Linked DNA regions of Homo sapiens. The protein of the gene in region 2 purifies or fractionates together with the protein of the main gene of each other region. This does not show direct contact. Each region holds a gene or a part of one and is shown on either strand. Other genes may lie near its edges. The genes, in order: LGALS9B and PBK.

The links.
Region 1: the proteins of PBK (region 2) and LGALS9B purify together in Homo sapiens (affinity purification with mass spectrometry; 3 studies listed by BioGRID and IntAct, with this or other methods). This does not show direct contact.

The regions. Positions count from the first base shown.
Region 1 is NC_000017.11:20,460,764-20,464,687, forward strand, and holds part of LGALS9B (galectin-9B), read right to left. Parts: intron 1-3,924.
Region 2 is NC_000008.11:27,816,902-27,820,825, forward strand, and holds part of PBK (lymphokine-activated killer T-cell-originated protein kinase), read right to left. Parts: intron 3,794-3,924; coding exon 3,664-3,793; intron 2,760-3,663; exon of another isoform or gene 1-2,759. UniProt on the Homo sapiens protein: Phosphorylates MAP kinase p38. Seems to be active only in mitosis. May also play a role in the activation of lymphoid cells.

The DNA.
Region 1 (3,924 bases), on a different chromosome or scaffold from region 2:
CTTCCTTCCAGGCAGGGAAGTAGCAGGCAGACGCCCTGGGCTGGTAAGGAACTAGGTAGCAATGGGGCTGCTGGACCCCATGCCAAGCTCCCAGCAAAGTGCCCAGCGCCCTGGCTGGGGACTCAGGAGGCCCAAGGGAACAAAGGGACCCATCAAGGGTCTGCAGGTTCCACCGAGAGGGTCACCAGAGAGTGTCAAGAAGAAGGCATGCACCTCTCCCCACCACCACCATATAACAATGGCCACCATGACCTTTGCCCTCCTGACCACCTTCAGCAGAGCCTCTTCCCAGATGCCCTCCGCAGCCCCGAGCCCCAGCGTAGTTTCCCCACCCATCCCAGGCCCCGTGGGCAAGCACTTTGTCAAATTCTCTCTTCCGCGCCTCTTTAAAGGAGCTATGGGCCATGGTGAGGCATGCATCGTTTTGGAGTCAGGCGGACTCCAGGTCTGAATCCTAACTCTGCTGCTCCTGACCTGAGTGGCCTTGGGAAGCCTATTTCACCTCTCTTTGCCTCAGTTTCCTCATCTGTAAAATAGGAAGGTGTTTCTCCTACTGCATATGATTGATGATTTTGTGAGAAAAAGCCTGTGGTAGAAGAGACTGGCACAGAGGAGACGCTTCACCACTGTCACCCACCCCCACCTTGGTCTCTCTGAGCAAAATTCACAAACTGGTACTTCCAATCTTCAAAGTTTATTCCGAAATGCCTCATATCCGGTGTGGTTCTATAACCTGCATTAAAGCACAGTTCTATCTCATGGCTGATTTTCACATTCTTCAAGTTTTTAATGTCTTCTCTAATATCTCCTTTAGGTCAATTTCCTACACAAATTAAATGCCTAAAGAAGCCAGGCAGGTGATGTGTATGAGTCAGATGGCCAGGTAGGGAGTGGTGGGGACTGTGGCAAAGTAGACGTCACACGCCTCATCTAAAAAGTCAACATCTTCTCAGCACTAACCAATGATTACCATCTGGGCTTAGTATTGGCAGAACTTCCAAATTTTTAAGATGAGACAGAAACCTGAATTTTTTTTTTTTTTTTTTTTTGTAAAACTTTCTAATTTCTTGGGGGAAATCTTTTGTCAAAAAGGATTATGTAAAAGTTCCTGACTGGGCACAGTGGCTCACATCTATAATCCCAGCATTTTGGGAGGCTGAGGTAAAACAATCACTTGAGCCCAGGAGTTTTAGGCCAGCCTGGGCAACATAGTGGGACCCCCATCTCTACAAAAAATAAAAAAATTGGCCAGATGTGGTGGTGCACACCTTTAACCCCAGTTACTTGGGAGGCTGAGGTGGGAGGATCACTTGAGCCTGGGAGGTCGAGGCTGTAGTGAGCCACGATTGCACCACTGCACTCCAGCCTGGGCAACAAAGCGAGACCCTGTCTCAAATGAAACTCCCCAAATTCCCACATTGTAGAGATACACAATGAAATATTTACAATGGAATGAAATCTCTGGATTTGCTTCCGCATATCTGAAGGTGGGAAGAGAAGCAAGCGAGGGAGGGTACAGGATGAAGCAAGATAGGCCTGAGTTGATCATTGTTGGAGCAGAGTGATGGGTGTGTGTTGTTGATGGTACAATTCTCTCTGCATGTTTGAATTTCCTATAATAACAAGTTAAAGTAAACACTGTGTAGGCCAAACAGAAAACACCCACTAGCCAAATTCAGCCTACTGGTCACTGCTTTCTGGTCTGTATTGTTGAGTTATGTGACCACACAGCACCCTGGGAAACCCATCCTAGCTCAGTGTACACACCTGGCACCGTGAAAGCCCCAGGCAATCTGAGATCTGATCCAGATAGTCTCTGCTCCCCATGGATTTGAGGGGGTTGTCTTTTCTTGCCCCTCAGGTCAGGTCTGAACTCTGCCATTAAATACTTTGGTGACCTCAAGCAAATCACAGCTTCTCTGTGTCTCTGACTTCTCTTTCTTGTCCCTGTCTACACCAGCGGTGTGGGGGAAGGAGAGTCAGCCTGATCCAGTTATGGGCCAGCATGGGCTAGGATTGGGAAGCCTGTTGTCCCTGAAACACGTCTGTGGAAGATTTTTCCCCTTGCCTGTTTGTGGCAGCCTGTGATTCCCTCCAGAGCCTTTCATTCTATCATGAGAGACAACGCTGAAAATACACACCCTCCTGGGAAGCATGCGGCCTCCACTCAAGCGTATTCACACCACAGCACCTAGAATTGAAGGCAGAGAGTGATGGACATGGGCTCGCAAGTCCACACAAGGCTTAACTAAGGAAGCCAGGAGGGAGAAAGACCAAGTACAGGTCATGGGGGCAGGACAGGGCAGGCTAATCTCCAAGGCAACAAGTTCCCCAAAAAAGTTCTGTGAGGTTTCAAAATGTCTTAAATGGCACCCCCAATTTCTGAAAAACAAGATTATTTTATTATTTATTTTATTTTATTTTATTTTGAGATGGGTTCTCACTCTGTTGCCCAGGCTGGAGTGCAGTGAGGAGTGTGATCATGGATCACTGCAGCCTCCACCTCCTGTGCTCAAGTAATCCTCCCACCTCAGCCTCCCGAGCAGCTGAGACCAAATAAGTGCAGGCCACCAAGCCATACCCCACTAATTTTCAAATTTTTTTGAAAAGACCAGGTCTCGATATGTTGCCAGGGCTGGTCTTGAACACCTGGGCTCAAGTGATCCTTCTGTCTTGGCCTCCCAAAGGGCCGGGATTTCAGACATGAACCACTATGCCTGTCCTGAAAAATGAGATTTTAAATTGAATATCATCCAACAAACAAGGTTATTCATTGCAGCATTATAACACAAAGGATTATAAAGCAAAGCATTGGAAGGAGCCTAAAAGTCTTCCAACAGGGAAAAGGTGAAATAAATTAGGGTATTTCCATATAATAGAATAAGTTCTGTGTAGCTTTCAAAAGAAAAGAAAAAGAAGACGGAAAAGAAAAAAGAAAAAGAGGAAAACTCTGAGCACCGATATGGAATAATGCCATTTGCATAAAAAGTGGGTAGGGGAAGGCTATGGACTTGCATTTATTTATTTATAGATAAAATATCTCTGGAAGGATTTACAAGAAACTTATAATACTGGTTATCAGTGGGCGACCCCCCAGAAACATCCACATTCGAATCCCCGGAAACTGTGAATATGTTGTAGAAGGGACTTTGCAGATGTGATTAAATGCATAATTTTGGCATGGGGAGATTGTCTTGGATTATACAGGTGGTCCCAATGTAATCACAAAGGTCCTATAAAAGGGAGCAGGAGGATCAAAGTCAGAGGTAAGAGATGTGACAACAGAAGCAAGAAGCTGGTTTTGGGGGTTTTGTTTGTTTGTTTGTTGTGTTTTTTTTTTTTTTTTTTTTTTGAGACAGGATCTCATTCTGTCACCCAGGCTGGAGTGCAGTGGCATGATCTCAGCTCACTGCAGCCTCCACTTCCCCAGGCTCACGCGATCCTCCCACCTCAGCCTCCCAGGTAGCTGGGACTACAGGCATGCACCACCATGCCTGGCTAATTTTTGTCTATTCTTTGTAGAGACACAGTCTCAGTTTGTTGCCCAGGCTGGTCTCCAACTCCTGGGCTAAAGAGATCCTCCTGCCTCAGCTTCCCAAAGTGCTGGGATTACAGGCATGAGCCACTGCACCCAGACAAAGCTGCTGGTTTTAAAGATGGCAGGAGGGGTCATAAGCCAAGGCAGGCAGGCAGCCTCTAGAAGCTGGAAAAGCAAAAGAAACAGATTCTCCCCTGGAGCCTCCGGAAGGAAACAACCTTGCTCACACGATGATTTTAACATCTGCCCTCCAGAATCATTAAGAAAGCAAATTTGTTGTTTTAAGATTGGCCAGCCAAGGCTGCTGTGGAATTTAGATCCGTGTGTCCAGGAAACCCAGGAAAACAACTGGACCTACTTTTGCTCCGTAGGGTGCAGGAGGATGG
Region 2 (3,924 bases):
TTATTGGTGGACATTCTCACACATTGTTGCATAGTCTGTTCTGCTACAATGTGTATTTTTGAAACAGTAAAAAGATTGATATTTTTCCCAGTACATAAATGTTATTTTTGAAGTGATCAGAGGCAAATCTCACAAATAGAAAGCCTTTGCCTACAGAAATGCCTTCCCTGAGCATATGCCTGGTGTAGTAGCTTTAAGAATTGCTATTGCTAACTACAAAAGCTGTGAGTGAGTCCAGGTAAAGGAGCTGCCAACACATTTCCCACACGCTTAAAAATATATATATATTTTTAGTGAGAAAGCCAGATCAAATTTTTCATCTTGATGAAAAGTATCTATTGAAAATACTCTCATATGTAACCTTCAGCATAAACCCAGGGTTTATGGCTACAAAGGAACATTTTATCATCATAGAAAGTTTCACTGAACAGCACTGCTCTAGAAAGTCTTGCTCCGGCTCAGAAATGACACAAGTCATTTCTTCTGGTAGAACCTTTCAGACGACAGTTTGGAAATCTGCATTTAAAATAAGAAAAATATTTTAAAATGTTTATGCCCTTGCAGATTTAATGTGTTAGTATCTTTTATTAGGATTATTAACTGTTTTTGTTACTGCTTTAGTTTTCAAAGTTGCATAGGTTTTAACCCTGTTTTTTTTTTCTATAAACCTAGTTATATCTTGAAACTTTTGCGCAATGAAGTTTTGCAGGAAATAATATATCAGGTTATTATAAAAAAAATGCCTGTACTGCCTAATTACTCAATTACTTCTTTGGACTGTGTTCTTAAGAATGAAACTATAGGGTCAAAGGGCATAAACATTTTTAAAGGTTTTTCTTATTTTAAATACAGCTTTCCAAACTGTCACCTGAAAGGTTCTACCACAAGAAATGACTTGTGTCATTTCTGAGCTTGAGCATTTAACTATCACTGCAAGACTTTCTAGAGCAGTATTGTTCAATGAAACTTTCTATGATGATTAAATCTCCTAAATCTGCATTGTCCAATGTGGTAACCATTAACCACATGTAGCTTCTGAGCACTTGAATTGTGGCTAGGGTGGCTGAGAAAATAATTTCAATGTTTTAATATTAATGTAAATAGCAACATGCAGCTCATAACTACTGTATTGGACAGTACCACTCCAATGCTTTTTCACCCTCCCCATAATGGTGGCCATGTTCCATATAGTGGCTGTTCCATCAGTATAAGTCCTAAAGGGAGAATGACACAGAACAAGGTGCTAATGGCCATGCAGCTTGAGTAATAAGCCTTGGTTGTTGTAAGTCACTGAAGTTTTTGAGGTCTGTGTTACCACAGCAAAACCTATTCTAACCTCAGTAAAACAGCAGTTACAAGTTCTACTTAGTGTATGAGAGGACATGTTAACCTACATTGTTGCTCATACTAGCAATCTTTTTATTTACTAGCAATCTTGTTACTCCTTCAATAATATATTTACAAGTCAGGCACTATTCTAGAGTTGAGGATATTTCAGTGGACAAGATATACAAGGTTCCCTTCTTAGAGCTTACAAGCCTAATGGAGGAATGGAGAAACGTTTAACAGATAATTTACACAGTGTGATGAGTGTTGATAGCAGATTATCTCATTGTTATTTAGCTTTTAAAACATTAGTAAGAACATTACATATATATTTTCCTAATTGCCATTTTTTTCATTTCTCAACAGTCTCTTCATAATAGAGCTTTTATCTGTTTCTCATTGATTACTAATAACTCTTAATGCATTAGAAATATTAAATATCTTATACATTTATCTCAGTTTCTAATGTCTTAAGCTCCCTGCCCCTCTCCAACCCACTGTGATATAGAATTCTTTTTTTTTAAATGGAGGTACCCATGGCTTTTTAATGATGGTTTCTAGCTTTGGTGTCTTCTTTAAAGTCCTCTCCACAGCCAACATTAAAGAACTATTTATCTACAATTTTTTCTACTGTTACTTTTTCCCCCAATCTTCAATATATGGGGATTCAAGTGTAAGGATAGAAAACAGCTGTGTTTTTTTCTAAAATGTCCAGATAACATCATTTACTGACTAAACTACCTCTTTTCTCACTAATACAAAAATGTCACCTTTATCACACAACAAATTCCTCTATTTGGGAACTATTTCCTGACTCTCATGTTCTATTTTTCTGCCTATTTTGGCATGAGTATCATCGCTTTAATTACTGTAGCTTTATAAAACTTTTTATCTGCTCAGGAAGATTCCTCCTCCTTTCATCGAGTTTTCCCAGCCATGTTTGATTGAACATGTATCCTCAAAGAGGAACTTCAGATTAATTCTGACATGTTCTAGAATAGATCACATTAAGATTATGTAGAATTTATAGGCTATCAAATTCATTCATTTCTGCTTTCTGTTCTTAGGGCGTCATTTTTTTCAATTTCAGTTGAATATTCAACTTAACTTCATAAAAGTTAAATAATGAAAATGTTTCCTTTGAGTAGTTTTGAACATATCAAATAGGGTTTGACTTGTTATATTCTTATATTTTCTAAATATTTTATAAATGGAATTTGATTTCTCTTTTTAGCCAAAAATTATTCGGAAGTGTTTTAAATTCCTAAAAAGTTTGGAGTTTTTGTTTCCTATTTTATTACAAATTTCTAGATTTACAGCATTGATGTTAAGGAATATCACCTATTAGACTATTCATACTTTTTATAATTCGAAGTTTTTTTGTGTGATCTAAGAATATGGTCAATTTTAATAAATATTATGGTGCAGAGGTACTTGCCTTACTATTTACTCAGATCTTTAACATCCTTACATTTGTCTGTTTGCTCTATTAAGCATTGAGAAAAATACTTTAAAAACCCTCATTTTTATTATGTTTGACAATTTATCCTTTTACTTTCTAAAGTTCCCATTTTGTAAGTTATTTAGCATAAGGTTTCACAACAGTTCTATTTTTATTAATGATTACAGACATCATTTATTTATAAAGTCTGTCCATTCATTCTGACTCTTGCCTTCAACTCAACTTGTAAACTTTTACTTCAGCTAGAAATTCAGGCATTTATATGTTCTAAACAGCATTTATTAACCATTTGTTTAACTTCTGTTGATATAAAGAGACAAATTTAAGTATTATTTACTAAATAATATGTTGCAAGCAGAGGCTTTCTCTTGAGGCTGGCTCTTGTTTCTCACCAAGAACATATCTTAAATTCCCTGAGAAGCTATGCAATAGAGAAGAAAGGGCAAAGAGCCAAAGACCAGCCTTCATTAGCACCCCTCTTTTCTGCTTCATTCCAGTTTCTTCTACCAGTTTCCTAAATCTTGTCACTTTACTCATGCTAAATAAACCGCTTTACACAACCTTACTAAATTTTACTTTCTATTCCCAGATGCTTTACTGCTTAAAGATCCCAATCCAGTTAGAAATATTTCCCAAAGATAACTCCAGTTAAAATATATACTAATACTACTACTAATAATAATACAGTAATTTATACTGTACATGTGGCAAGGGAGAAGACTGCAGGCTGACTGGGAGAGAGAGAAAAAAAGGGGACTTTTTACCATATACTTTTTAAAAATAGTTTTTGATTTTTGATCCATGTGGACTTACGTATTTAAAAATGTAAACACTGTATTAAAAACAAAATTTTAAAACTTAAGAGTACAACTTACCAGTCATATTTTCATCCAGTGGTAGAGAGACTCCTACATCACAGATTTTAATTGTTTCAAAATCGCCTTTAATTACAACATTTGAAGACTTTATGTCTCCATGAAGCAGTTTCTTTTCTTGGTGCAGATACTAAAATAGTAAAAAATTTAACACATATGTGCAGAAACACAAACTAATAAAAAAATGTGATAACCTCCAAATATAACAACTTGAACTCCCTTCCTAAACTCTAGGTTTACATTTGTCCAGCGTTTCAAAAT